7 linked regions of the Homo sapiens genome follow. The protein of the gene in region 7 interacts with the protein of the main gene of each other region in a biochemical or structural test. Each region holds a gene or a part of one and is shown on either strand. Other genes may lie near its edges. The genes, in order: LNX1, SIPA1L2, SNTA1, MAST2, DLG4, HTRA1 and TTC24.

What was found.
Region 1: the proteins of TTC24 (region 7) and LNX1 interact in a test that uses a peptide from one of them, tested with the Homo sapiens proteins (one large-scale study listed by IntAct).
Region 2: the proteins of TTC24 (region 7) and SIPA1L2 interact in a test that uses a peptide from one of them, tested with the Homo sapiens proteins (one large-scale study listed by IntAct).
Region 3: the proteins of TTC24 (region 7) and SNTA1 interact in a test that uses a peptide from one of them, tested with the Homo sapiens proteins (one large-scale study listed by IntAct).
Region 4: the proteins of TTC24 (region 7) and MAST2 interact in a test that uses a peptide from one of them, tested with the Homo sapiens proteins (one large-scale study listed by IntAct).
Region 5: the proteins of TTC24 (region 7) and DLG4 interact in a test that uses a peptide from one of them, tested with the Homo sapiens proteins (one large-scale study listed by IntAct).
Region 6: the proteins of TTC24 (region 7) and HTRA1 interact in a test that uses a peptide from one of them, tested with the Homo sapiens proteins (one large-scale study listed by IntAct).

What each region holds. Positions count from the first base shown.
Region 1 is NC_000004.12:53,479,987-53,484,324, reverse strand, and holds part of LNX1 (E3 ubiquitin-protein ligase LNX), read left to right. Parts: intron 1-2,470; coding exon 2,471-2,605; intron 2,606-4,338.
Region 2 is NC_000001.11:232,623,123-232,627,460, forward strand, and holds part of SIPA1L2 (signal-induced proliferation-associated 1-like protein 2), read right to left. Parts: intron 1-4,338.
Region 3 is NC_000020.11:33,433,305-33,437,642, reverse strand, and holds part of SNTA1 (alpha-1-syntrophin), read left to right. Parts: intron 1-4,338. UniProt on the Homo sapiens protein: Adapter protein that binds to and probably organizes the subcellular localization of a variety of membrane proteins. May link various receptors to the actin cytoskeleton and the extracellular matrix via the dystrophin glycoprotein complex.
Region 4 is NC_000001.11:46,016,066-46,020,403, forward strand, and holds part of MAST2 (microtubule-associated serine/threonine-protein kinase 2), read left to right. Parts: intron 1-3,530; coding exon 3,531-3,632; intron 3,633-4,338. UniProt on the Homo sapiens protein: Appears to link the dystrophin/utrophin network with microtubule filaments via the syntrophins. Phosphorylation of DMD or UTRN may modulate their affinities for associated proteins. Functions in a multi-protein complex in spermatid maturation.
Region 5 is NC_000017.11:7,197,025-7,201,362, reverse strand, and holds part of DLG4 (disks large homolog 4), read left to right. Parts: intron 1-4,310; coding exon 4,311-4,338. UniProt on the Homo sapiens protein: Postsynaptic scaffolding protein that plays a critical role in synaptogenesis and synaptic plasticity by providing a platform for the postsynaptic clustering of crucial synaptic proteins.
Region 6 is NC_000010.11:122,464,154-122,468,491, reverse strand, and holds part of HTRA1 (serine protease HTRA1 precursor), read right to left. Parts: intron 1-4,338. UniProt on the Homo sapiens protein: Serine protease with a variety of targets, including extracellular matrix proteins such as fibronectin. HTRA1-generated fibronectin fragments further induce synovial cells to up-regulate MMP1 and MMP3 production.
Region 7 is NC_000001.11:156,578,453-156,582,522, reverse strand, and holds the start of TTC24 (tetratricopeptide repeat protein 24), read right to left. Parts: upstream 2,801-4,070; 5' UTR 2,765-2,800; intron 1,163-2,764; 5' UTR 1,159-1,162; coding exon 453-1,158; intron 293-452; coding exon 89-292; intron 1-88.

The sequences.
Region 1 (4,338 bases), on a different chromosome or scaffold from region 7:
TCCCAAAGTGTTTACTTGAGATTTTTAAAACAAGGTCCTAGTTCCTGAGAGTGAGTGAGTTGTGTGCTCTGGGAATGAAGATGCAGAAAAGGCATTGTCTTAGTCCATTCATGCTGCTATAACAAAATACACTATCCTAGGTGGCTTGTAAACAACATAAATTTATTTCTCACAGTTCTGGAGGTCAAGAAGTCAAAGATCAAGACACTAGCCGGTTTGGTGTCTGGGGATGGCTACTTCCTCACAGATGGCACCATCTCACTTTGTCCTTACATGGTAGAGGGGCAAACAAGATTCCTCCAGCCCCTTTCATAAGGGCTGTAATCCCCTTAGGAGGGACCTGCCTTCATGACCTAATCACCTCCCAAAGGCCCTACCTCCAAATGCTGCCGTGTTGTGGGTTAGGATTTTAACATCTGAATTTTGGGGAAACATGTTCAGACCATAGCAGGCAGGAAGAAAATATCTCCACCACCATTGTCTGAGTCAATGCAAAAGAGCATGGAATTTCAATGCCCTCATTTCATGACCTTTCTCCCCTAGCCCAATAACCATCCCTGTATAGGAAGAAAGCTGGCAGGTCACTGCCCCTTCTCTGTTGTGGTGGTGAGTGGGCAAGGGATGGGATGAAGAGAGGAACCACCAAACCTTACTCCTCTCTCTTCCATCTCCCTTGTCCCTAAACCAGGTCTGTCTTGGGAATCTTTCTAATCAAATCTTCCATATCTCATTCATTTTCAACTTTTACTAAAGTGATAAATGAGGTCAGCTGGCTACTTCAGCCTAGGCCACCAGAGAGCTCTATTTATGTGAGTTTCATAGGTCTAAGATTTAGTCTGAATGACCTGCAGCTCTGAAATCTCAATGGTCAGCAATTCTGGAATAATGGCCCATACTACCTGACACATGTGAAACTAATCTGTGGCAGAAAGACAATTTGTAAATGTATCATTGTATTTGTCTGCTCTCATGCTGCTATTAAAGACATACCCGAGAATGGGTCATTTATAAAGGTTTAATGAACTCACAGTTTTACATGGCTGGGGAGGCCTCTCAGTCATGGTGGAAGATGAAGGAAGAGCAAAGGGATGTCTTACATGGTGGCAGACAAGAGAGCCTGTGCAGGGGAACTCCCATTTATAAAATCATCAGATCTCGTGAGACTTACTATCTCGAGAACAGCATGGGAAAGACCCACCCCCATGAATCAGTTACCTCCTGCCAGGTCCCTCCGATGACATATGGGAATTATGGGAGCTACAATTCAAGGTGAAGTTTGACTGGGGACACAGTCAAACCATATCGATGATGTGGAGTGGACCTTTCCAATAAGTACTATATTTGCTATTCTGAATGCCTGTCCAAATATCAATGTACATAGCAGAGAGAATTAGCAGAGTAACTGGTAGTTCCATAAAAAATAAAGAAATCAAGGCAAATTACTCTTTTGCAGTTTTTTAAACATTTTGTATTTCAATAGCTTTAGGAATACACGTGGTTTTTGGTTACATGGATGCATTGTATGGTGGTGAAGTCTGAGATTTTAGTGCACCTGTCACCTGAATAGTGTACACTGTACCAAATAGGCAGTTTTTCATCCCTCACCCCACTCACCCTCCCCTTTTCTGAGTCTCCAAAGTCCATTATATTACTCTGCCTCTGCATCTCCAGAGCTAAGCTCCCACTTACAAGTGAGAACATGCAGTATTTGATTTTCCATTCCTCTGTTACTTCACTTAAAATAATGGCCTCCAGTTCCATCCAAGTTGCTGCAAAAGACATTTTTTCATTCTTTTTTGTGGCTGAGTAGTATTCCATGGTATATACATACCACATTTTCTTTATCTACCTATCAGTTGATGGGCACTTAAGTTGATTCCATGTCTTTGTGATTGTGAATTGAAGGTAAAGGATTTTGATTAGGTTGTACATATTAATGTATGAAGTCATCCCCATATTTCTAAAGTGCTAAACCTTTCCTATGCCCAAATATTTGCAAGTGTCAGGCTCAGGATTTCTCTTCCTGCAGTGGCAAGTTACTGCCATTAACTCCATCTCTTTTTCTTTACTGTGTACCATTGATCTTAGATCTTTGCTTTGGGCTGCTACTTTACACAGTGCACCTAATTCTATCTGGGAAGAACTTAGGGCATGGCTTGTGTGTGGTACAACCATTAATTAAAAATGAATTAGCAATATCTGATGATGCCTTTTCAAAGATTGGAAGGAACCAAACCTTCCCTAGTTTTCCCTTGGAGCAACATTTACTACCTGGTTTAAGGATAAAGGAAAGAGCTCTCATGCTCTTGGCAAATTACAAGATGGATAGTAACAAAAAAACCCAACAAACTAGAAATCATGTTTTGCCATAAAAAAATGGTATAATCAAAGTGATGTTTTTGTAAGCTCCTGGTGCTGAATGCAGTGGATGGAAACTGACAGTGGCTAATGCCTGTGTCTTCTTGCCCAGGCCAGTGAAAGACGTGTTCACCTCGTCGTGTCCCGCCAGGTTCGGCAGCGGAGCCCTGACATCTTTCAGGAAGCCGGCTGGAACAGCAATGGCAGCTGGTCCCCAGGGCCAGGGGAGAGGAGCAACACTCCCAAGGTGAGGCCTCTAGGGCAGGTCGCCTGCTCCTGCAAGGGGCTATTTCTTGGGAAGGCTGCTTGTTTTAACATGTCTAAGTGTCATCTCTGGACTTTTTTACTTAAAGAAACACTTTGACTTGTAAAACTAAAAGCCCAAAGTCCCATATTTAAGACTTGGAGAGATAACAGGTGTCTCCCATCCAAGCAGGAGAGAAGAAGGTGCAGGAAAGTTTTGAAACCTGATCATGCAGACCTCATACAGGGACCTGATTTCTAGCCTAAGCCAAATAAATGGCATGTTTTTACCAAGAGTCATCTTGTTTGAGGACTTATTTTATTCACTTTGAAATGAAGCAAGCAGTTTGCCTGGTTTCTGGCTTTTGAATTTTTCAGTCTGCCTAGAAATGAGTGATTTCCCCGCTACTTTTAGTTTTTGTTTGTGTTTGCCGAAGGGCCCAGGAAGATAATTTAAACACTTGAAGCTCATGTAACATTAGGGAGTGGTGGGGATTGGGGCAAACCAGAGAGCACATGTTATATGGCATTCAAATCCAGAAAACTCTAAAACACTGTGGATCTGTGGGTGGAATTCATTCTTCAGGCCACCAGTTTGCAGCCTCACTTTAAATGAAGTGACTCAGCCCAATTTGTACTTCTCTCTGTGGCTTCTATTAGAGGCAATGCCTTAACCTCTTCATTTGGATGCGTGTTTAAGCAACACAAACCTTGTTTAGTCCAAATTAAGAGTCCTATAGCTTTGGCTTGGCATCCTGTTGTGATGCTGATGAGCTTCTTTCAGTCATCTCTCCTGAGTTCTGGTTTCATGGCATCACTTGTAACTAAAAAAAATTCTTAAAGGTAGCTCATTCTTCTTGCAACAGAAAGTAGGGAATGCCCTTTTCTTTCTACGTCAATCTATATGTTGGTTGGAATAGCTTACAAATTGAGTTTTTGAGTAATATATAGAGAAACAATATTCAAATTTTTTATTTTGGAACATCTCTGCTTTATACTATGTTAATTACATAGCCTACAAGGTTATACACCCCTCCAGGTTCTCCAGCCAGCCAAGCCTCATAAATCCATAAATTACCTGTTTCTCTACAATAAGGAGTCTAGACAGACCAGATATATCCTGCTAAAACATTTTATGGATAAGGACTCCGTGATGTCTTTTTGCTAGTAAATGCTTAATGTTTAAATTTAACTGATCATCTTTATTAATGAAAAACTAGTTTATTAGCTTAATTAATTAATTGAAGTTTTTATCCAATTAACTAATTTTAGTTGAATTAACTAGAATACGTCATATTCTAAGTCATCAAATTATGGAGAAGGTAGCCTCCATCTGCACTGTGGTTTTAGAATTCCTTCCACCTCCTCATCATGAAAGAGCTGGGAGGATCTGGTCACATTTCTGCTGCAACCCTCTGTCATATGTCTTAATTCCTGGAAACGTGCAAACTGACTTAGTCGGAATTGTAATTATTTCCGTTTTAACTTATATTCTATCTGACTTCTGAAATATCCTCACAAAAAAGTAACATATTTAAAAAAACTGAGACATATATGGCTCTTTGATTATTTCAGTTTTTATATTCTTACTAAAATCTTGTTTGGTTTAGGAAACCAGGTAGCTTTTTAAAAATAAGAGCTTAAACAATTCAAAGAAATACCAAAGAAGACAAAGCAGGATTTGTGGGACAGAAAACTTTTAGCCAATTAAAAAAGTTAAGGAATGCTAGGCATCAA
Region 2 (4,338 bases), about 76 Mb from region 7:
TGTCTCTCCTCACTCATTCCCAACCCACTAACGGCTGGGAAGCCAGGCATTCCTTGCACTACGGGTGGCTGTGTGCTACAGTTCTGGCCAATCACATACAGACAGAGCTAGGCTGTCAATCTGAACTTTTAACATACCCTGATCCTGGGAATGCTTTCGTCTGAGTGTGATAGTATGATGCTTCTTAAACAGCTGAGTTCAGAACAGGCACAGTGGCTCACGCCTGTAATCCCAGCACTCTGGGAGGCCGAGGCGGGCAGATCACGAGGTCAGGAGATCGAGACCATCCTGGCTAACATGGTGAAACTCCGTCTCTACTAAAAATACAAAAAAAAATTAGCTAGGCATGGTGGCAGGCACCTGTAGTCCCAGCTTCTTGGGAGGCTGAGGCAGGAGAATGGCAGCAACCCAGGAGGCAGAGCTTGCAGTGAGCCAAGATCGCACCACTGCACTCCAGCCTGGGTGACAGTGCGAGACTCTGTCTCAAAAAACAAAACAAAACAAAACAAAAAAACAGCTGAGTTCAATTAGAAACTTTCTAAGGAGAATAGCATCGCCATTACATTAACCTCCTACCCCTCAATAAATGAAACCCCAAACCAAGACCCACAAGCAATTCTGGAAGAAAACAGGCCAAAGTCAGAAATGTCTTCGGGAAAAAGAATAAATACACAGTAAATATAAGGCCCATCAAGAGTGGAGTTTGTCTTCCGCTTGCCTCACAAGACCCTACAGGCTCCCTAGAAATTCCATTTCTCAACTGCTATAAACTCTAACCAGTGATAGTACAACAGTGGTCTCTACACAGGGGCCACACATTTCAAAGATACAAATGCCCTTGAGATGCAGAGAAAATACTTCTACATCTATTTATTTTTAATATTAATCTTCTTAAAATGTACATTTGTTTTATGTCCATAATATCTTAGCACAGTAAAGTATATGTTTATACATACAGATATATTATACATATACACACACACAAACGTGCATGCAGATATGTATACATGTATACGCATACATACATGAACACTTAGACAATTGTGTATAGATGGGATGCACGTTGAAAAAAGTTTGAGAACCTTGAGAACCTGCTAAAAAGAAACCACTGTTTCTTGCATTAGGCCATTTAAACACCTGAAACAGGTAGCATTTGCCCTGTACAAAGAATCAAAACTATAATTCCTAAAATTACTTATTAGAAACTTCAATACGGAGAGGACAGTATCCCAAAGCTATTCCTGAACAATGTGAATACCCACTGTTCAACAAGGAACCAAATGTGTTATCAAAACCACCTCCAGAAGACAGTGAAAGTAGTTATGCTGACTTCACAGGACACTATGTCTTAAGCATTAACCAGAACTTTCTTTTAAAACTCCACACAATAGTTCATCTCAGCAGACATAATCTTTTATTCACCCAGGAGTTCTTACTTTCCACAATAACAATTTTTAACACTGGCTCTTTACCTAGATATTTTTACTTAAGAGTTTGAATAAACTACCAGATAGCTTACTTCGGACTGTTCTGATTTCTTGAGGAACTCAACTAAATGGGGATATTTCTCAGAAGATTAAGCAAATATGTAGAAGTGAAAAATATGGAGTAATCTAATGGGCAGAGTTCAAGACACCCCTTTTGGCTAAATGTTTATTAGTAAAATAGGAAGAGAAGTATATCAACCAATTAAAACAAAACCGGAAGAGACTGTGGTGTTCTTCCCCACTATCTGAAAGCAATTCAACACAAGAGAATACCAAACCAAAAAATAAGCTGAAGAAAGTCCAACAATATTCTGATTTTTCCTAGAAGCACTGCAGTTCCTAAGGCCTCCGGAGGTCACAGATCACAGTGTGACCCTAGTGTCTCAATCCAGTCAGTCATTTAACACATTTTCTTAATCATATGCAGAAGAGAGTGCTCGTTACTAGGGACACACTGAAAATGAACTCATTATTACTCAGCATAACTTGGTCAGTAGAACCAGCAAAGGAGGTTTGACACACTCTTTCAGGATATCCATGTGGAAAGGTGGAGCTATATGGGCTAGTTATAAGATATGAAGAGCATTAGTAGTTAACTATAACCGAGAGTGTGACTCCTTGTAAGCCTCGAGGGAAGCTTCCAGAGACACACTTCGTGTTGTTCAGCCAGTTTAACAATTTCATCACCGGCTTAAGTAAAGATATAAAAGAGTCTGATCTAATAATGTACAGACAGCATTTCTTTGGGAGGACAGGTAAAGGTGCCAAATAATATAATCAAATTCTAAAAAGCATGATGGAAAGAATCAGCTAAAATAAAGCAAAACCACAGCGCAATAAATGTTAGGTTTTGCAATGACATCAGCGCAAGATGGAAAGACGAGGTTCAATGGCAGCATGTGATTAACGGCTCGGCAGGTTTTAGCGAAAAGGAAACTCGTTGAGTCTGGCCACCAGAAAAGTAAATGCAAACTTGGACTACATCAGTGCAAGCAACATGCAACCTATGACAAGACACTCCTGCTGTACTCTACACAGGTCATGTTCACGGGTCACGTTACACCAAGAGCCCAACTCTGACAGAGACTGAAGGATTTGTTCTGTAGGCCACCAAGGCAGTAGAATTTGAATAAACAAGCAGAATCAGATTTCAATTCTATAGGCCAAAAAACTTTCTAGTACTCAAAACCATTAAAAGGTGGAAATCACCACCCGTTACTTGCAATGTTCAGGTATTACCGGAAGACCACTTACAGAGATTATATAAAAGGATCCAAATATCAAAGAAGGGTTAGTTGAGCTACTCAGTGATTTCTAAACCCCGGTCCTTAGTGAATTTTTCATTGACCCATGCAAAAGAAAAAAGTGTCTGTGTGGGGATAGATATAAATCCACGAGTGGGGTAATTTTAACACAGCTCCTCTCTGGATAGGAAGAACTCTCCTTTAAGTCTGACAGCATACATATTCTTCCCCCTTTCCCCACCTTTTCTCTTTTTTGGTACATCAAAAGGATTTTGACGAAATGCATTGACAATAGGTAGTAACTGCTGTTGTCAATTTTAAACACACTTATGTAGCAACATTAAATGCTGACATATCTGACAATCCCTAATATTTGCTTTTTTTTTTTTTTTTCATTTTACAGGTAGACGAAAACAAAAGGTATAGGAACAACATGACGAGACAATCTTTAAGGTCCTTTCTGGCCCAAAGGAGCATGACAACTAGACTCGACTTGCTGCATATTTTCTTCCTTCCTACCACCCAACTTGGCTATCTAGTACTGGGGGAGAAGAACGAACCAAGGAATTGGGTTGCACTAAATATGAAATCTCTCAAGAAGCAGAACCTCAACAGTGAGTCAAGATCTGGCTCCCTTCTACAGCTGCTGTTCTTTGGAACCAAAGTTTATGAATCCAGTTCAGAAAGGATCAAAATAATCTATGTCTAAAGTTGGGAAGCTTTTAAATTCCTACCACATTGTTACCACACTTTTAAAAGGAGTCACAGCTACATGCAACTGGAACACAAAAAGCAATTTCTGAATCATTGATTTCAAGGTAAACCAAGTAGCTATGACCCTCATGCAAAGCATTCACATACAAACTTACTATAGGCCAAGGCAAAGAAATGACATAATCATGAAAAATATAAACATCCCAGTCAGACAGGCATTTTCATTACTCTAATGCGTTCGTCTTAAACCTTAAAGAAACCCCAAATTTTGGTGCTGAAAGGGATCATGAAAATAGTTTCATCCAAATTCATTTGTGACAGGTGGTAGAGGCAGGAAGCTCAAGGTTCCTGTCTGTGCCTAAAGCTTTTTCTACTCTCACTCTGCAAATGAATTAGGCACATTAACAGAAGTAGAAAACCTAGAACATGGTTCACTATTCTCTAGGACTGTACTTTGTATTTCATTGAAGTTCAAAACAGAAAGAAAAAAAAAAGCAGCTTTTCAATTAACAATACCCTAGTCTAAATTTTCTTCAAATTCAGTGTGTCTTTAAAAGGATTTGTAATCCTCAACTACCACCATAAATTGATCAGAAGTTCAAAAACTCAATGCCTTCCTCAATCTCAAAAAATAACGCTGCATTTACCAATTATGGTTGGGGGCAAGGGGCTGTATCCACATAAACACATAGTTCTTTGCAAAGTATGCAGGAAACACAATCCCTTTAAACTAGTTTCGATGCCCAAACACAGTGCTTTTAAACCAGTTTCAATTACCAAACAACTGGTTTTTCAGGGTAGCTAGTATTTCCTTACTTTCAGAAATAGACTGCTAATTTCAAAATAATAACCCGCTTCTCCTTTGCCTCAGGTAAAAAGATCCCCAAGGTGGA
Region 3 (4,338 bases), on a different chromosome or scaffold from region 7:
CCCAGGCCCAAATCCTGGTGGGTTGCCTTGGTTTCCCTAAAGGAGTGTCCAAGAGGCCACAGAAGCAAATAGGTTCTCGGTCCTTGGTTGACCCAGATATAAAATAAAATAAAATTTAAATAAAGAAAATAAAATGTAAAGTTTTATTTTATATTTTAGGTATATCTATTTAAATGCCATGGATGCATTTTTTTTTCTTGTTTTTTTTTTTTTTCGAGACAGGGTCTTGCTCTATCACCCAGGCTGGAGTACAGTAGTATGATCTTGGCTCAATGCACCCTCCACCCCCCGGGGCTCAAACAATCCTCCCACCTCAACCTCCTGAGTGGCTGGGACTACAGATGCATGCCACCACACCTGGTTAATTTTTTTTTTTTTCTGAGATGGAGTCTCACTCTGTTGCCCAGGCTGGAGTGCAGTGGCATGATCTCGGCTCACTGCAACCTCCGTCTCCCGGGTTCAAGCAATTCTTCTGCCTCCGCCTCCTGAGTAGCTGGGATTACAGGCACCCACCACCATGCCCGGCTAATTTTTTTATTTTTAGTAGAGATGAGGTTTCACCATATTGGCCAGGCTGGTCTCAAACTCCTGAGCTTGTGATCCACCTGCCTCAGCCTCCAAAAGTGCTGGGATTACAGGTGTGAGCCCCTGCGCCTAGCTTTTTTTTTTTTTTTTTTTTGAGATGGAGTCTTACTCTGTCGCCCAGGCTGGAGCAGTGGCGCGATCTTGGCTCACTGCATCCTCCGCCTTCCAGGTTCAAGCGATTCTTCTGCCTTAGCCTTCCGAGTAGCTGGGACTACAGGTGCGCACTACCACGCCTGGCTAATTTTTTTTTTGTATTTTTAGTAGAGACAGGGTTTCACCATATTGGCCAGGCTGGTCTCGAACTCCTGACCTCGTGATCTGCCTGCCTCGGCCTCCCAAAGTGCTGGGATTACAGGCGTGAGCCACCACACCTAGCCAATTTTTTGTAGAGACAGGGTTTCACCATGTTGCCTGGGCTGGTCTCCAACTCCTGGGCTTAAGGGATCCTCCCACCTAAGTCTCCCAAAGTGCTGGGATTGCAGGCCACAGTGCCCAGTCTAGATGCATTTTTTTGATACTTAAAAAAAGCTGACTCTAGAGTGTTGATCCTTAGAAGCTTAAGTGTATCAATCATATTTTAATGGCAAAGTTAAATAATAGAATGCCACATAAATGATATGGATATAAGAGACTTTCCCCACATGCCTCATTACTTTGATATTTATAGTCAGCAATGCGGTTTGAAACCACTGACATTCATCGAAATGTCATATTTTAGTTGACTTGAAAGCTCTTTTAGCTTCTGTTGTTTGAAAGTTTAGTCTATGGTAAAATTTCTGCTATAGACACAATTCAAATCCACATTCACACGGAGGTCCCCTCACCTCCTCATCTTTATTTTTTATTTTTATTTATTTATATTTTTGAGACAGAGTCTTGCTCTGTCACCCAGGTTGGAGTGCAGTGGCGGGATCTCGGCTCACTGCAAGCTCCGCCTCCCGGGTTCACGCCATTCTCCTGCTCAGCCTCCCAAGTAGCTGGGACTACAGGTGCCCGCCACCACGCCTGGCTAATTTTTTGTATTATTAGTAGAGATGTGGTTTCACCGTGTTAGCCAGGATGGTCTCGATCTCCTGACCTTGTGATCTGCCCGCCCCGGCCTCCCAAAGTGCTGGGATTACACGCGTGAGCCACCGCGCCCGGCCCACCTCCTCATCTTTAGATTAAAAATGTATCTATCTGGGTTCCCATGTATGTCGTTTTGAGAAGGTAGTATCTGTAAATGTGTGACCTTGAAGCATCTTCTGACTTTAGGAGTGAATACTCAAGCCTTCCCTCTAACTCATGTCATGCATTCCTCCTCACTAAGCCAAGAGACATTCATGGACATCTACTGTGTGCCTGCTGTGTATATTAAGGTCAGAAGCTAAACTACACCCAGGGCCTCTCCTGAAGGAGCTCACCATGTGGTAGGGTAGACAAAACATAAACACTATCTCCTCTACACAAACTGTGTTTTTTTCTTGAGGCAGGGTCTCACTCTGTTGCCCAGGCTGGAGTGCAGTAGTGCGATCTCAGCTTACTGCAACCTCCTTCTCCCAGGTTCAAGCGATTCTCTGCCTCAGTTCTGTAGCTGGAATTACAGGTGTGCACCACCACGGCCTGGTTAATTTTTGTATTTTTAGTAGAGACAGGGTTTTGCCATGTTGGCCAGGCTGGTCTCGAACTCCCGGCCTCAGTGATCTGCCTGCCTGGGCCTCCCAAAGTGCTGGGATTACAGACGTGAGCCACCATGCCTGGCCTACAGAAACTCTTTAAAAGCCGGTGGCTAGGTGCTGTGACTCACGCCTGTAATCCCAGCACTTTGGGAGGCTGAGGCGGGTGGATCACCTGAGGCCAGGAGTTTGAGACCAGCCTGGCCAACATGGCGAAACCCCGTCTCTACTAAAAATACAAAAATTAGCTGAGCCATGGTGGCGCGTGCCTGTAATCCCAGCTACTCAGGAGGCTGAGGTAGGAAAATCTTGAACACGGGAGGCGGAGGTTGCAGTGAGCCGTGATTGTGCCGCTGCACTCCAGCCTGGGCGACAAGAGCAAGAATCCATCTCAAAAAAAAAAAAAAAAAAAAAAAAAAAGCTGGTGCCTGAAATCCTGTCTGCTCTGCAATAAATCTCTGTTTGGCCTTGGGTAAGACCCTTGCCTTCTAGGGGACTCAGTTTTCCTATTGAAGTTAGGCTAGATCAGAGGTGATCAATAGCTTTTATTTAGAGTGGCAGCTCCAGGCAGGCGTGGTGGCTTACGCCTGTAATCCCAACACTTTGGGAGGCTTAGGTGGGCAGATCACTTGAGCCCAGGAGTTCGAGACCAGCTTGGGCAACACAGTGAGATTTCATCTCTGTAGGAAAAAAAAAAAAAAGAGTGTAAGCGTCAGCTCCACTGGTGGTTCTGTGAGTTCCATATTTGGAAGGATTGGGAGGCTTTGTCTGGGCTCAGCAGAAAGGAGCTGGAATTGATTAGCAATGTCTACTACAGATGCAGTAGAGAAGTAACATGTGTATCATCCCAGGACTGAGGGGCCCCTGCTCTTATATTCTCTGAGATGTTTCACAGGACGAGATCATTCCTTGGTGAACCCTGCCTATGGCCTGGGTAAGAGAAAGAAGAATGTGGCCTTCATGTTTTTCCCCACTTTTCCTTAGTTGAAGTCTTTTTCGACCTATTCTCCTGGCCCAAGATCTCATGGAAGGAGGTCATTCCACTCAAGATAGCACAAAGAGGGGAGGAGGAGTGGTGGAAGGCACTGGAGTCAGGAATCTCTGAATGGCAAGAGTGATCAGAGAGGTCTGAAGGATAGGAGGATGCTGGGCTGTGGCTGGTCCTTGAGACTTTGGGGAGTGGAGAAGGTCTGGGCCTGGCAGTTGCACCAGTCTGGAGCAGCCAGGGTTCCTGGGACCCTCTCTGGGCCTAGGTTTCCCCGGAGTTGAATCACTGACCACATTGTTCAACATTTCCCCACTCACATCCCATTACTGAGGACGCCTCCAAGGGGCCATGGAAGGATGGCCTGTCCTTTGGATGTGAACTTGGCAAGGCAACTGGATATTTTTCCAGCTCAGTGGATAGTGAATCCCCTGAGGATGTCCTGGGAGAACAAGCATTACCAGCAAACTCCAGGTGTCAGCTAGAGCCTTACTTCCCTGGCCTAAGTTGGGGGCTCAGCTGAGCCTCAGCAACCCCAACCTGCCTCCTAGAACATTTCTTCTACTAGGTCAGGGGTTTGCAGAAATGTCCTGATCCTGTTCTCAGCCAGAGGGGTGTGTTTGTGACCACAGTCTGGGCCCAAGTTGGCAGCCAACAAGTGTCTGTCCGCTGCTTCGAGAGGCCCGTTGTGTGTGCAGACCTCAAGCCAGGGCCAGCCTGGGCCCTTGAAGGCCAGGCCTGGGGGAAGAGGGAGGGACAGCCTCAAGGAAAACACCCTTCCCTCCTCCCATTCCAGTGTGGCTGGCAGGACTGTGACAACAGTGAGCCTGTCATGCATTAAAAATAATGCTGGCTGGGCGCGGTGACTCATGCCTGTAATCCTAGCACTTTGGGAGGCTGAGGCAGGCAGATCAACTGAGGTCAGGGGTTCGAGACTAGCCTGGGCAACATGGTGAAACCCCGTCTCTACTAATAATATACAAAAATTAGCTGAGCATGGTGACACGCGCCTGTAATCCCAGCTACTCGGGAGGCTGAGGTAGGAGAATTGCTTGAACCCAGGAGGCAGAGGTTTCAGTGAGCCAAGATCGAACCATTGTACTCCAGCCTGGG
Region 4 (4,338 bases), about 110 Mb from region 7:
GACAAAAACCACATGATTATCTCAATAGATGCAGAAAAGGCCTTTGACAAAATTCAACAACCCTTCATGCTAAAAACTCTCAGTAAATTAGGTATTGATGGGATGTATCTCAAAATAATAAGAGCTATCTATGACAAACCCACAGCCAATATCATACTGAATTGAATGGGCAAAAACTGGAAGCATTCCCTTTGAAAACTGCCACAAGACAGGGATGCCCTCTCTGACCACTCCTATTCAACATAGTTTTGGAAGTTCTGGCCAGGGCAATGAGGCAGGAGAAGGAAATAAAGGGTATTCAATTAGGAAAAGAGGAAGTCAAATTGTCCCTGTTTCCAGATGACATGATTGTATATCTAGAAAACCCCATTGTCTCAGCCCAAAATCTCCTTAAGCTGATAAGCAACTTCAGCAAAGTCTCAGGATACAAAATCAATGTACAAAAATCACAAGCATTCTTATACACCAATAACAGACAAACAGCCAAATCATGAGTGAACTCCCATTCACAATTGCTTCAAAGAGAATAAAATACCTAGGAATCCAACTTACAAGGGACGTGAAGGACCTCTTCAAGGAGAACTACAAACCACTGCTCAGTGAAATAGGATACAAACAAATGGAAGAGCATTCCATGCTCATGGGTAGGAAGAATCAATATCGTGAAAATGGCCATACTGCCCAAGGTAATTTTTATAGATTCAACACCATCCCCATCAAGCTACCAATGACTTTCTTCACAGAATTAGAAAAAACTACTTTAAAGTTCATATGGAACCAAAAAAGAGCCCGCATCGCCAAGTCAATCCTAAGCCAAAAGAACAAAGCTGGAGGCATCATGCTACCTGACTTCAAACTATACTACAAGGCTACAGTAACCAAAACAGCATGGTACTGGTACCAAAACAGAGATATAGATCAATGGAACAGAACAGAGCCCTCAGAAATAACGCTGCATATCTACAACTATCTGATCTTTGACAAACCTGAGAAAAATAAGCAATGGGGAAAGGATTCCCTATTTAATAAATGGTGCTGAGAAAACTGGCTAGCCATATGTAGAAAGCTGAAATTGGATCCCTTCCGTACACCTTATATAAAAATTAATTCAAGATGGATTAAAGACTTAAACGTTAGACCTAAAACCATAAAAACCCTAGAAGAAAACCTAGGCATTACCATTCAGGACATAGGCTTGGGCAAGGACTTCATGTCTAAAGCACCAAAAGCAATGGCAACAAAAGCCAAAATTGACAAATGGGATCTAATTAAACGAAAGAGCTGCTGCACAGCAAAAGAAACTACCATCAGAGGGAACAGGCAACCTACAAAATGGGAGAAAATTTTCGCAACCTACTCATCTGACAAAGGGCTAATATCCAGAATCTACAATGAACTCAAATTTACAAGAAAAAAACAACCCCATCAAAAAGTGGGCGAAGGACATGAGCAGACACTTCTCAAAAGAAGACATTTATGCAGCCAAAAAACACATGAAAAAATGCTCACCATCACTGGCCATCAGAGAAATGCAAATCAAAACCACAATGAGATACCATCTCACACCAGTTAGAATGGCAATCATTAAAAAGTCAGGAAACAACAGGTGCTGGAGAGGATGTGGAGAAATAGGAACACTTTTATACTGTTGGTGGGACTGTAAACTAGTTCAACCATTGTGGAAGTCAGTGGGGCGATTCCTCAGGGATCTAGAACTAGAAATACCATTTGACCCAGCCATCCCATTACTGGGTATATACCCAAAGGACTATAAATCATGCTGCTATAAAGACACATGCACACGTATGTTTATTGCGGCACTATTCACAATAGCATTTACTGTTTTTCTTTCCTTGTATCCTATTTACTACTCAATCTTCTGCCTTCCAGTTTCCCTTCCCACCAGTCTACCAAAACTGTTCAGGCAAAATTCACCAAGGAACTCACTGGCCAATTGCCAAATCCTGTGGCCACTTTCAGTTCCCATCTTCTGCCACCTCTCGGTGGAGCACAGTGAATACTTCCTAAACTTCCTTCCCCAGTTGTCAATTCACTGTTCTCACCACTCTTGCTGCCTCTTCACAAGTTCCTTTGCTGCCCACCTCTTCCTACTGGTGTGTCACAGGGCACCATCCGGCATGCCTGGTCTCCCCTTTCTCTTTCCTCCACTCTCTCTCTGATGTCTTGCCACCTGCTCCCATGTCTTCAGTTGTCATCTCTACGCTGAGGACTCCCACATGTGGCTGCCACTCTTACTGTTCTCCTGAGCTTCAGATCAGTGCACCCAGCTGCCTGCTGGACTCCTCCACTTTGACTTCCCTATATTGGTTCTTATTCTTTGGTTGCACGTAATAGAAACTGATTCAGAATAGTTTAAACAGTAAAGGGAAACATTATAAGAGTAAAAGGAGTAGGTCTTAGAGAATTGAAGCGAGGGATATAACCAGGCCTTAAGAAGGAACCAGAACTAGAAACCAGAAGCTCCAGGAAGCTCAGGAAGTCTTCATTCTTCCTTTTTCTGTATGCATCTTTTCCTCTATTTCCATGGTAGGTATGCATCTCTTTTCACAGTTCTTAAACGGTTCTGCCACACTGACGTTAACAGTTGTCTTTCTATCCTTTTTTAAATTCCTAGGAAAGTGATCCTCTCTGGTCAGCTATTAGAGGTGGGAGGGAAGGTACAGACACACAGTACAAATGTGGCTCCTAGAAACCAGAGCAGTTCTCAGGAAAAAAGAGAAAGGCCCATCGGCCAAGCAGATACCCAAGAGACTCTCATATAGGTGCCTGAAACTGCACGCCCAGAACTGAGCTTATCTTTTCTGCCTAGCTGTTCTTTCTCTAAAACCAAATGCAGTACATTCTTTACCTATCACCTAAATGGCTTCTTATAGTTACTATTTCACTTATTCATTGTAATTTTCCTAAAATTGAAGTTGTAGTTGCCTTCTGTCGTGCTTCTTTCACCCCTTATCTGCTTCTGTAGTAACCCACGTCTATCCCCTTGTCTGCATTCTTCTGCCTTGACCTATGCCTTTTTCATCTGAATTATTAGAGTTGCCTGCTAATGGGTTTTCCTGCATTTAGCCTTGCCCTCTTTAGTGTACTCTCTACACTGCAGCCAGAGTGATCCTTCTGAAGTACTTTCTGGTCATATGACTCCTCAGCTTTGAGGTCTTTCTACTCCTTACAGTCTAGGGTGGAAAGTGAACATCAGTGAAGGCACCATTGAGAGCTGCCCCTTGAGCTAGGGTCTGGAGGGTAAGTGAGGCTTGTTGGATGGAGGAGCAGGTACAGCTGTATGTCTGTGTGGCATTTCTTGGTGTCATGTAGTGTTCTAAAGCAGAAATGGTTCCCTATGAGCAACTCGCTCCCTCTCACAGCCAGCCAGCCTTCTCTGAGTTCCTTGCTTTGCGGAGCTCTCTATGCTACCGAATTGTTTCTCCCTGGAGTCAGCTCTGCCCTGTCTGGTCCTGCTTAGCCCAGCCACACTGGGCCAATAGATTAAGCAACGCTTCTTTTCTCTATAGGCTCATGAGCGCTCAGAGAGCTCAGAAGTGGCTTTTGTGATGCAGCTGGTGAAAAAGCTGATGATTATCATTGCCCGCCCAGCACGTCTCCTGGAATGCCTGGTGAGTGGACTCTAGGAAAGTCAGGTGGGCAGATTTAGAGGAGGACTATAGAGGAAGTATCCTGATGACAGCAAAACTGTGGTGGTAACCACTGCCATTTCTGTTGCTTAGGTCCTTATTTAAATATGATTTGCCACCATTGGGGGACTAAACAGGTTTTTGTGAGGACAAATGTATGGTCCTGAGGGGATGCGGCAGGGAGAATTATTAGTCTAGGCCACCCCCACATGAGCAGGGCTCACATCAGTGGGGGTCTTGGGGGTGAGAAGCGTCAGGAGCATAGCCCAGTTTAGTTTGTACAAGTTGAGTCCTTCATTTTATCTTCAGCAATACTTGACTGAGTACCTACTTCCTGCTAGACACTGGAGATACAGACATGAATAAAGCACAGTCTCTGATCTTGGGATGTTTCCTCTACAGTGGAGTTGGGAAGCATGAGGCATGAGGACATGTAAATAGTAATTACAATACTGCAAGAAGTGTTGCAGTTGAGGTCAGTACACAGCGTAACGGGAACCTGGAAAAGGAAGTGCTTTAGTCTTCCCTGGAAGGAACATTCAGTGAATGCTCCCTGGGGGACGTGAGGCTTATTCAGCAAACTGAAGGATGAGTCTAAGTTTCCCAGATCGGGAGCATGGGAAGGAGCATTCAGTGGGGCACAGGGTGGGTTTGAAGAAGTGCTGAGGGGTAAGCCTGGAAGGTAGGC
Region 5 (4,338 bases), on a different chromosome or scaffold from region 7:
TGCCCCAGCGAAATTATGGTGGTTGAGAATCACTGCTTTAGAGATTTCAGACAGTGTAACAAGACAAGGAGAATAGTTACATTTGGAAGGGAAAAACAAAAGTTATCTCTATTTGTAAATTATACTACTGTGCATCTAGATCAAAATCTAAGTGAATTAACTGGAAAAATATGCAAAGTTAAGAATGTGGCTATTTGTTGGCTGGGCGAGGTGGCTCATGCCTGTAATCCCAACACTTTGGGAGGCCAAGGCGGGCGGATCACCTGAGGTCAGGAGTTTGAGAACAGCCTGGCCAACATGGAGAAACGCTGTCTCTACTAAAAATACAAAAAAAAATTAGCTGGGTGTGGTGGCGAGCGCCTGTAATACCAGCTAATCCTGAGGCTGAGACAGGAGAATTCCTTGACCCTGGGAGGCGGAGCTTGCAGTGAGCCAAGATCTCACCACTGCACTCCAGCCTGGGCGATAGAGCGAGACTCCATCTCAAAAAAAAAAAAAAAAAAAAACCAAAACAGGCTGGGCGCGCCGGTGGCTCATGCCTGTAATCCCAGCACTTTGGGAGGCCGAGATGGGTGAGTCACCTGAGGTTGGGAGTTCGAGACCAGCCTAACCAACATGGAGAAACCCCATCTCTACTAAAAATACAAAATTAGCCGGGCATGGTGGTGCATGCCTGCAATCCCAGCTACTCAGGAGGCTGAGGCAGGAGAATTGCTTGAACCTGGGAGGCGGAGGTTGCGGCGAGCTGAGATCGCGCCATTGCACTCCAGCCTGGGCAACAAGAGTGAAACTCTGTCTCAAAAAACGACAAAAAAAAAAAGGAATGTGGCTATTTGTAAGATAAATAACAGGAATTAGTAACTTCCCAGCAATAAGAAAATGTAGTGAATAAAAAGCCCCCTTTTGCCATAGAAAAAATTTCTATAAAATTATTAGAAATAGAAACTTGACAAGAAATGTAAGATTTGTATGAAGAAAATGACAAAACTTTACTGAAAGACATAAAACAAGACTGGAAGGGGTGAGGAGTCACACCGTGTCTCTGGATGGAAAAACTTAATATGCTAAAGATCTCAACCGGCTCCAAATTAATCTACATTCCATTCAATCCTAATCAGAATTTTAATGTTGTTTCCCTACTGGGAACTTGGAAGGTTGACACTAAAGTTTGACTGGAAAAATTTGTGTGGAAAAGCTAAGACATTTTGGAAACAAATAATGAGGTGTGGCAGCCCCTACAAAATATGAAATAATACTGTAAAACCATATTAAAATCATGTGGTACTATTCCTAAATACCATAACCTAACAAAAGGAACCTGGGCTCCTTGGAAGAAGGGTCAATTTAAAATCTTTTTTTTTCTTTTCTTTTTTTTTTTTTTTTGAGACGGAGTCTCGCTCTGTCGCCCAGGCTGGAGTGCAGTGGCACGATCTTGGCTCACTGCAAGCTCCGCCTCCCGGGTTCATGCCATTCTCCTGCCTCAGCCTCCCGAGTAGCTGGGACTACAGGTGCCCACCACCACGCCTGGCTAATTTTTTTGTATATTTTAGTAGAGATGGGGTTTCACCGTGATAGCCAGGATGGTCTTGATCTCCTGACCTCATGATCCCCCCACCTCGGCCTCCCAAAGTGCTGGGATTACAGGCCTGAGCCACCGTGCCCAGCCAATTTAAAATCTTTGGCAATAAATCTGTAAGATGAGCTTCTAACTTCTTTCATACTAGAGAGCAAGGAAGGTATCCAGGACTAATAGGGTCTCAGCAAAGACACAGGATCCAAACTGAAGGTGCTTCTACTGTCCAGTGAAAACTCGTTAAATATATTAAAATCTTTAAGATCATAATAATACTTAAAAATATTTTGGCTGGGCGCGGTGGCTCATGCCTGTAATCTCAGCACTTTGGGAGGTTGAGGCAGGCGGATCACCTGAGGTCAGGAGTTCGAGACCAGCCCGCCCAACATGGCGAAACCCCGTCTCTACTAAAAATACAAAAAATTAGCCAGGCGTGGTGGTGGGTGCCTGTAATCCTAGCTGCTGGAGAGGTTGAGGTGGGAGAATCCCTTGAACCTGGGAGGCAGAGGTTGCAGTGAGCCAAGATCGCACCACTGCACACCAGCCTGGGCGACAAGAGTGAAACTCCATCCCAAAAAAATAAATAATTAAAAAAAAAATTGGAGGATGCTAGGCAATCTCATTCATTCTGAAATTGGTGAATGAATGGAAAGAGGCATGCAGAGAGAGGCATGCATTTATCCTCCCTTTCATGTACCAGCTACCTCAGAGAGTAACCAACAGGTTGACATAGGGCTGTTTTTTTGTTTTTGTTTTTGCTTTTTTTTTGTTGGAGGCAGGTCTTGCTTTGTCACCCAGCAGGCTGGAGTGCAGTGGTGTGATCTTGGCTCACTGCAACTTCCGCCTCCTGGGCTCAAGCGATCCTCCCACCTCAGCCTCCCGAGTAGCTGGGATTACAGGCGAGTGCCATCATGCTCAGCTAACTTTTTTTTTTTTTTTTTTGAGATGGAGTCTCACTCTGTCACCCAGGCTGGAGTGCAGTGGCACGATCTTGGCTCACTGCAACCTCTGCCGCCCGGGTTCCAGCAATTCTCCTGCCTCAGCCTCCCGAGTAGCTGGGATTACAGGGCCCTGCCACTGCGCCCAGCTAATTTTTGTACTTTTAGTACAGATGGGATTTCACCATCTTGGCCAGGCTGGTTTTGAACTCCTGACCTTGTGATCCACCTGCCTCGGCCTCCCAAAGTGCTGGGATTACAGGCGTGAGCCACTGCGCCCAGCCTCAGCTAACTTTCAACTTTTGTCTTTTGTAGAGATAGGGTTTCACCATGTTACCCAAGCTGGAGGAATTTTTTTTTTTTTTTTTTGAGAGGGAGTCTCGCTCTGTCACCCAGGCTGGAGTGCAGTGGCACAATCTTGGCTCCTTGCAACCTCCGCCTCCTGGGTTCAAGCAATTCTCCTGCCTCAGCCTCCCGAGTACCTGAGATTATAGACGTAAGCCAGCACGCCCAGCCTATTTTTGTATTTTTAGTAGAGACGGGATTTCACCATGTTAGCCAGGCTGGTCTCAAAGTCTTAACCTCAAGTGATCTGCCTGCCTTGGCCTCCACAGTGCTGGGATTACAGGCATGAGCCATCGTGCCTGGTCGAGATTTTTCTTTTTTACAGAAGAATTCCCACTAGTAAATGACAATCACCACCATTTTGCAGTCCTTGATACTTATCAGAACCAGGCGGTGATTGTCAGTGTGGCTAAAACTTACCTGAAAGGCTGATGGGGCGCTAGATAATGGATGGACTGGGCTGATGACCCTGAACCTACCATTAATCTTACCTGACAGAAAGACAACCAGGCATTATTGCATCCTGTGGTGATGCTGTAGGAAGAACGTAGCGCTACCTATGAAGTATACAGGAGTTACTAAAAAAAACTCTGAATTGAACTTGAAACTGATCAAGCCTCCAGAATGAACTGCCAGTTTACAGGAGATACAGGGGCAGAGGCATAGGCTAAACAAACCACAGGAGGGTAAGCAGTAATTTCCCTGTTAGAATTTCCCTCATAGGCTGGTCAAGGTGGCTCATGCCTGTAATCCCAGCACTTTGGGAGGCATAAGCGGGTGGATCATTTGAGTTCAGAAGTTCCAGACCAGCCTGGACAACATGGTGAAACACTGTCTCTACTAAAAATACAAAAATTAGCTGGGCATGGTGGCGCGCGCCTGTAATCCCAGCTACTTGGGAGGCTGAGGCATGAGAATCACTTGAACCTGGGAGGCAGAGGCTGCAGTGAGCCAAGATCACGGCACTGCACTCCAGCCTGAGACTCCTTCTCAAAAAAACCCCAAAAAAACAAAAGAATTTCCCTCATAGAATGTGGGAAATTCTTTTAGACAAATGACCTAGTTTTTTCAACGAATGGATGGCAGAGAGGTGGGGGGAAAAAAGAGGGAGAAGAATTTTATGGATTAAGAGATTCGAGTGACACAGGAACCCAGAGAAAACCCCCAAAGCGTAATATTAATGCTCCCTTTGACTTCCCCATCCCTGGCATACTGAGGACATATAACGTTCAAATCCTTTATCCCCTAGGACAACCAGCCTCTGATGTCACCTATAAATTCCTGACCCCTGATGTCACTGTGATCTGATATCCCCTTACCACCCCACCCTGGCATCTCTGGCAGAATATCTTCCCTTCCACCTAACTTTGGCTCTTCTGGCACCCTGGGGAGAAGGTTGGGTGGCGGGTGCTGTTTCCCTCCAGGCACTTTCATCTCTGCCCTGTCTTCCTCAGCTTATTCCCAGCACCTGGACAATGAGAT
Region 6 (4,338 bases), on a different chromosome or scaffold from region 7:
GTCCCAGCACTCCTCCCACACAGCTGACTCCTTTGTCAGTGCCTTGAAGATGATGATGATGATGATGATGATGATGATGATGATGATGACAATGACAACACGCTAATATTGCCTGAGTTCTAGCAATGCATCAGGCACAGTGCTTTGCGTTTCATATAAGGAGGTCCTTCCATTCTGCAATGCCCTAAGAGCTACGTATGTATCTGCTATTACTTCTCTTATCTTACTGATGGGGAAACTGAGACTTAGAGATGAAGTCACCCAAGAAACACCACACATCCAGAAAATGGCAATCCGACTTCAGAAGCCCAGCCCTTAAGCTGAGCATCATACTATCTACCACGAGTACCTTGAGATCAGGGGCCACCAGCCCTTACCTCTGAGTCCCCATACCTGATACACTTCTGAGCACACAGTAGGTGTTAAATAAATGCTCTGAATGAATTTAGAAATGGAACTCTCAGCACTGACTCCAAAAACTGAACTCTGCATCTTTCCGGCAGTGATGGACATGCCTCTTCGCAGCCACTTACTTCTGTCCTGAGGCGTGTTGTCCTGGCTAATGTCCCCCTGTGGTTCTAGGCACACGTCACCAAGTAGTGCTGAATCACTGTAACTTCCATGCCACTTCCAGGAGCCTTTTGGAAACACATTCAGAATGGCTACACTTCTCGGTTTCTCTATTAATAGGATTTTTCTCTTTCTTCTTTTTTTTTTAACGGCAGAGAAGGTGGAGAAGGAAAAGATGAAATGACACAAGGGTATCTCACTTCAGATGACCCAAAGGCCTTGGAGCCCCAGGGAAGGAGCAAGGGGTATGAGTCTCGTGGAAGCTCATCTCTTGGAGATGAACATGTCACCCCTGTGGTCTCCCGGGGACTTCAGCAGCCAGTACAAAGCTGAAACACAAAGCAACCAGGCTCAAGATGGATCACATCTATTCGATGCCAGCCTTGGCTTTAACCATCAATAATTTAGGAAAAAGAAGTAGCTCATAAGGAAGCCTCCCCAGGCTTTAAATTAGGAATGAGGTGACCACAACCTCCTCAAAGACTTGTTTTCTTAGAAAAATCCCAGACCATTCTAGTTAAAAGGAGCCTCAGAGATCAACTGGCCCAATCCCCTCACTGCCGAGGCTCCGAGAGGTCGAGGGAGCTGTTACCTGGTCAGGTAACACCCCAGGAAGGGCCAGAGCCGCTTGCCCTCAGCCCCTCCGCCCCAGTTGGCCTTCCAAGGAACCCTCACCCACTGCCAAGCTTACTTCTTCTTCAAATTAAGCCTGACCAGAGCTATTTATTCACTTGAAATATAAGCTCATGGAAAGTCTGATTTCTGAATCCAAGGCATGAAACTCATCCAGGATCACACAGCTCCAAACGGAGAATCCAGCCCCAAAGCGGAGGCCATCAGGCTTCTGACCACAGTTAGCTCATGGTGCCCGCCACCATCACTTACTCAATGCAGTTATTTTAAGTTCCAATGCAACCCATTTACAGCTCTCTCAGTGGAATGAAGTAACTCAAACACTTGGTTTTTGAGCTTGTTAACTTCCTAATTTTATGAAGCCTTAATATTTTAACTCTTTAGCAAAACCAACAGAGCAATAAAAGAAGGCAGCCGACCAGAGCAGGCAGAGACTCATAAACTGCTCAAAAGACCTCCAAGTTTCCAAGTTTCAGGTGACTAAAAGCTGGAGACTCACAAATGTTTCCACCCACCCTGCCCTAAGATGAAGCTCAGGTCCCTGGCACACTTGTTTTTTAACTGACAAAAGGTGTATTTGAATTGCCAATAGTGAAAATGACTCTCGAGCAAACTGCCCACTTTAACAATGGAAAAATACAACCCCAGGGAAGCAGTGATTGTATTTTCCCCCATTGTATTGAATATAAGTTACCTGTGGGCAGTGACTTTGTTTTATTCAACCCTGTCTCCCCAGAGCTCAGTACAGGGTCAGCACTCAGCTAGCAATGATTGCTTGTTTGAGGTTCCCACGAAAGAGTCACCTAAATAAAGTACATTTTGGCACGGGTGCAGTGGCTCACTCCTGTAATCCCAGCACTTTGGGAGGCCAAAGCGGGCGGATCACAAGGTCAGGAGATGGAGACCATCCTGGCTAACACGGTGAAACCCCGTCTCTACCAAAAAATACAAAAAAATTAGCTGGGCGTGGTGGCGGGTGCCTGTAGTCCCAGCTACTCTGGAGGCTAAGGCAGGAGAATGGCATGAACCCGGGAGGTGGAGCTTGCAGTGAGCCGAGATCGCGCCACTGCACTCCAGCGTAGGCGACAGAACGAGACACTGTCTCAAAAAAAAAAGTAAATTTTACAAACATTCCAGGGCTCCAAGAAGTAAAGCAACCATCTAAGCCCTTGGTTCTTCACCAGGTATGTACATACAGCCTCTGCCTTTAGAGGCTCTGGGGTGAGACCAGGAGCAGGCGATCCTAAAAACCTCCAGGGGTGGAGTTTCTGGGCACCCCTGCAGCTTGCAGACCTCCAAGCTTGTCTGGGCTGCTGCATGGAGTAGGGTGGGCTTTCCTGGAGGATGTACTAGCAGGAGAAATGGATGAGGCTTCTGCTGTTTGGGAAGTCTGTTTCAGGTCTCGTTCCTGGCTTCTTGTCCATGTTTTAGCAGAGGTCCGGAATCCCGGCTGGTCTTTTGGGACATGGGGGAATCTGGAAGGGCTTTCTCTCTTCAAGAGCAGTTTGTCTGGATCTCTGGCTTGGAAACAGCCTTCCTACAGTCCCTCGGCTCTTTTTGCTTTTCTTTAGTGAGGGCTGCACTGACGGCAACTGGAGGCAACCTTGTCTTCAGGCTCCTGAGCCTGCAGAGTGAAGGCTGTGATCTGTCCTGTTCCATCTCTAAGCCACAGCCATCTGGAGCCCTGTTTATTTCAGCTATTAGCTGGGGCTTAGCTGGGGTTGGTTTAAAATCTCTGTTGCTCTGTCAACAGCACAGCATGGTGGTTATGAACGAGGCTCTCCATCCAGTTGTGTGGGACCACCAGTCCTGAGCAAGGTACTTCTCTGTGACTTAGCTGCCCAGCTGTAACCCAGGGAAGACTACAGCACTCACTCATAGGACTGTCCGGAGGATCAAATGAATTAGTATGCACCCGGCATAGAATAAGCACAACATATATGTTAGCCCTCATTATTAGTACCCTATTAGTATTTCAATTCCTTTCTTTTTTGTAATCATCTGACCAGTACAGCTGGAGATGACAGATCTTTGTTCTCTAGCTGAATTGTATACTTTCCCATCCAAACCCTGCCAGTGCATTGACTTCTGAAATAGATGATTTGCCTTCATTTCCAGAGCGGTGAGCAGAGATGTTCTCTGAGGTCTATTCAATAAACAGCTTACAGATGAAAGTGCTTTCCTTTGAATGGTGACATGTTCCTCTATCCAAAGATCTACTGTGACCCAAAGTGCTAGTCACCTCCCTGGGGACCCCTGATCTGATGACATTTCTACCTCTCATCCCCTGGCATGCTCTGCCCCAGACAAAGCCACCTTATAATATTTGAAATCGCAGCACCCGCTCCTGCCTCGAGAGCTCTGTCTCCAGATCCGTGTATGACTTGCTCCAACTCCAGGCCTCTAGTCAAGTGGCACCCCTAGAAAAGGCTCATGTCCATGGCAGCTAAAGTGACTCTCCCGCCAATCTTCCAGCCAGAGCAGGCAGCCAATTCACCTCATTTAACAGTGACGTCAAGTGACCTGCCCGTGGGCACCAGCTGTTGAGTCCTGGAGCCTGGCTTGGACTGAATGAAGTCTGCTGGCTCCCAGGCGCCTGTCCTCGGAAACACCTCCGAAAAGTCAAGGGTGGAGTGTGAGATCCAGAGAGGGGGCGCAGCAAAGCAGTGCCTTCCACTAAGGAAAAACAGAATGGCTGTGTATCGCAAGCACCTCCCGTTTGTCTTCATTCATTCATTTATTCATTCACTAATCCACTCGTACCAAGTACCTCCGATGTGCCAGACAGACAAACATGCAAACGGTGTCAGACACCCTACAGAGCTCAATAAATATTTGCAAAAGAAGGAGGGAGGGATAAGAAAAGCATTGTACCCACTCTGTCTCTCCCTCCTTTCAAAGCCACCATGCTTATCCCTCTGTGGCTGTCCCCTCACTGGTACACCGGGGGCCCGCTGTGAGCCCGATGGCCAATGGGGGACCTGTTTTCCTCCACACAGGGACTCAGCCAACTCCAAAACTTGTTAAGCAACTTGCCTCACTAGCAATAAATTAGGCGGCTCGCATGGTGCCAGCAACTCAGGACCCCGTGCGATGAGACCACAAACAGCGAGACCAGTAACAGCTGGCTTGTTT
Region 7 (4,070 bases):
GGCCATCCACCCTTAAGCCTTGGGCCCCTTTTGGAACCCCTTCTTAGTGTCTTAGTCCCAGTCCCATTCCCCGGCCCCAGGCACCCACCGTGTAGGTCAGCAGCCTTCTGGTGAAACTCCCGAGCTTCCTGATAGTTGCCGAGGGCATTGTGGGCCATCCCGAGGTTTCTTAGCACTGTGGCCTGCTCTCCTGGCACCCAGCACAGGGGCAGGGCCTGCAGGAAGGCCTCCACGGCCAGCGGGAACAGCTGGAGCTGGGAGTAGCCCAGGCCTAGATCGTTATAGAGGTGCCCTAGAGGGAATAGCCAGGGTCACTGGTAGCCAGACCAGATATAAATGAGGCTGGTACAGCCCCTATCGACTCCTCCAGGGTTCCCCAAACCCAGCCCTCTGAGTATCATCAGGCTCTGTGTCTCCCCAGATCCCATGCCTTCCCTGCCCGAAGGTCTCACCCAGCAGTCGCCTCTCAGTGCTCCTCTCGGCAAGCCTCCGGCTTTTCTCCAGCACCTGCACAACTTCCCCCACCCGATGCCGCCCACTCTTCAGCATACATCCTGCCGCAGCCCCCAGTGCCAGGGCTGCGGCCCGCAGCTGTCTCTCTTGAGCATAGGCCTGGCTTGCTTCCTGCAGGCAGTGGGCTGCTAGCTCAGGCTGTCCCAGAGCCTGGTAGCAGGCTCCCATTTTTGCCCAGGCTTCTCCCTGGTCACCCTGTGGCTGGTAGTGGCCCAGGGCCCTGTGGTACCAGGCCAAAGCTTGAGGCAGCTCGCCGAGGGCATGGTAGGCCAAAGCCACATTGAAACATTGGTCGCCGTGTCGCCTGCCCTGTGCCTTCTCTTCAGGGTGGGCTCGCAGGAGTAGCTCAAGGCCTCTGGCTGGGTCCCCAGTCTCCACATAGGCAGCCCCCAGGTTGAAGGCGCAGGCCTGGAGCACAGGGGTATCCCTGGTTTGTGGGGCCTTGGAGGCCAGAAGGAAGGCCCTCTGGAAGTTGTTCAAGGCTTCATGGTTCTGGCCAGCCTGAAGGGCCCCATGGCCAGCCCTGGTGAGGGCTTGGATGCTGGCTTCTTGCCGCAGCCACTTTCTTTTCTTCTTTTTCTTATTGGAGCTTGAGGGCTCAGGTTCTGGCCTCCGGGGCACATCCTCAGGGTTGGGGGAAGACATAGGGCTGACAAAGGGGAACAGAGGGCTCAGTATGTCAGCCTTGGCTTCCTCTAGATAGCAGGACCCCCTTAGGGCAATTCAGCTCTACCCCTGCCCTAGCATGACCCTCAGGGTTTCAAGGATTGCTCTCTGATCTCTCACTTTGTTTCTTCTGTCCCATTGGGCACCATATCCACTCTCACTCTAACTTCCTGACTAATTCTTAGTCCTCCTTCAAGACTCAAGTCAAGTAACAGCTTACTTCAGAACGCACCTTCTTCTCAACCAACTGGGTACTCCTGTGGTCCCATAGCACTTGATGCCTATGTCTTTTATAGCATTTATCACACTGGGTCAGAGCTGATGACTTTATTGTCTTCCCCCCACTACTAGATTTGGAGCAACTTGCAGGGTCTGGCACACAGTAGATTCTCAATAAATGTTTATGAAAGGAGATGAAAAAGTTCTGGAGATGGATAGTGGTGTTAATTGCACAATAATGTGAGTGTACTTAATGCCACTGAACTGCACATTTTAAAATGGTTAAAATGGTAAATTGTATGTTATGTATATGTTACCACCATACGAGTGTTTTTGGATTGAACAAATAGGCCAGGTGCGATGGCTCACACCAGTAATCCCAGCATTTTGGGAGGCTGAGGTGGGCAGATCACGAGGTCAAGAGATAGAGACCAGCCTGGCCAACATGGTAAAACCCCGTCTCTACTAAAAATACAAAAATTAGCCGGGCGTGGTGGCGGGCGCCTGTAATCCCAGCTACTCGGGAGGCTGAGGCAGGAGAATTGCTTGAACCCGGGAGGTGGAGGTTGCAGTGAGCTGAGATCGCGCCATTGCACTCCAGCCTGGGTGACAGAGAAACTCTGTCTCAAAAAAAGCTGCAAATAAATAGATGAAGGAACCGCATATGCAGGGCCTCTCCTCCATAACTTCCTTCACACTGTGCCTCCACAGACACCCCCCTCACTCATCATCTAGGTACTCCTGCTATCTAATCTCAAGACGTAGTTCAGGTCAGTTCAACAAGCACTCAGTGAGCCCCTGCTATGTGCTAGGAACCACACTAGGCACTGGGGACCCTAGGGTGAGGAGGCTCCTGAATTGGCAAGGAGCGAACCTCCAGGAGAGAAGGATTTTCTGAAAAGGAGTGTGGTGTGGGACAGAACATGCATTTACTGCCCCTTCCCTAGCTCAAGGGGAAGCTCTCTCTCCATTTCTTCCGCTTTCTGTCTGCTGGCTGGTTCTAGGCCCCCAGCCTCCTGCTCTGGTCTCCAGAGCCCTCTTAAACCTGAATACAAGCATCTCAGCAGCTTGTATATCCTGTTTGTATTTTTCCCCTTGAAGGGCAAAAGCTTTTTATGAACTCTCCTCCCAGGAGATGGGAAAAAGAGTGGAAAAGACCCAGGCCCTGGGCTCTTGACCCCTCCCATTTTATCCTTTTTTTCCCCTTTTTTAGGAGGGGCAGGCAGAGGAAAAGCAGTCTCTTTTAAAAGAAATTCCCCCTGCTTCTAAGAACACCCAGAAATCCTGCCTTTTCAAGGCCTTCCACTCCAGGGCATTCCTGACCACCCCCATCCAGTGTGGGGATCCCCACTGCAGGACACCTTACCTCCTTGGGTCTTCTCCGCAGCTGGCTCTCTGGAATGGCCCCTCTGGCTTGGGTTACCTCCCAAGCTGTTAGCTCAAAGCCCTAGAGGTTACTAGACAACCAGGTACCACCCTCCAGTCGTAGGGAATTATTTGAGTGACAGCTCTGAAGCCGTATCTTAGTGCTAAACCTCGGTAGTGCTGCAGACACACCCCCTCAAGTCCCTCACTTCAAGAAATGAATCAAGGCATCAGAGGGGCGCTTACTAGTTACACCCTCAGAAATCATCTACTTCATCCCCTCATTTCACAGAGGAAGGGACCAAGCCTCAGACAGCAGATGTGACTTAACTAAGGTCACAGAGCAGTCACGTAGCTGGGGTTAGACTCTATGTTTTTTTTTGAGATGGAGTCTCACTCTATCACCCAGGCTGGAGTGCAGTGGCGCCATCTCGGCTCACTGCAACCGCTGCCTCCCGGGCTCAAGTGATCAAGTGATTCTCCTGCCTCAGCCTCCTGAGGAGCTGGGATTACAGGTGCACGCCACCACAACCAGCTCATTTTTGTATTTTTAGTAGAGAAGGGGTTTCACCATGTTGGCCAGGCTGGTCTCGAACTCCTGACCTCAAGTGATCTGGCTGCCTTGGCCTCCCAAAGTGCTAGGATTACAGGTGTGAGCCACTGCACCCCGTCTTTTTTTTTTTTTTTTTTTTTTGAGACGGAATCTTGCTGTGTTGCCTAGGCTGGAGTGCAGTGGTGCAATCTCAGCTCACTGCAACCTCTGCCTCCTGGGTTCAAGCCGTTCTCCTGCCTCAGCCTCCTGAGTAGCTGGGATTACAGGTGCCTGCCATCACACCTGGCTAATTTTTGTATTTTTGTATAGACTGGGTTTCCCCATGTTGGCCAGGCTGGTCTTGAACTCCTGACCTCAGGTGATCTGCCTGCCTCTGCCTCCCAAAGTGCTAGGATTACAGGCATGAGCCACCACGCCCAGCCAACTCTAGGTTTTTTGATTCAAGGTGAGTAGCCTAGGGTCCCTTCCACTACACTGTGTGATTGCAAGTTGTTTTTTTTGTTTGTGTGTTTGTTTTTGAGACAGAATCTTGCTCTGTCATCTAGGCTGAAGTGCCTAGATGATCACAGCTCACTGCAGCCTCTACCTCCTGGGCTCAAGCGATCTTCCCACCTCAGCCTCCCAAGTAGCTGGGACCACAGGCATGTGCCACCACACCTGGCTAATAATAATAATAATAATAATTATTATTATTATTATTATTATTATTATTATTATTATAGAGATGGGGTTTTGATATGTTGCCCAGGATGGT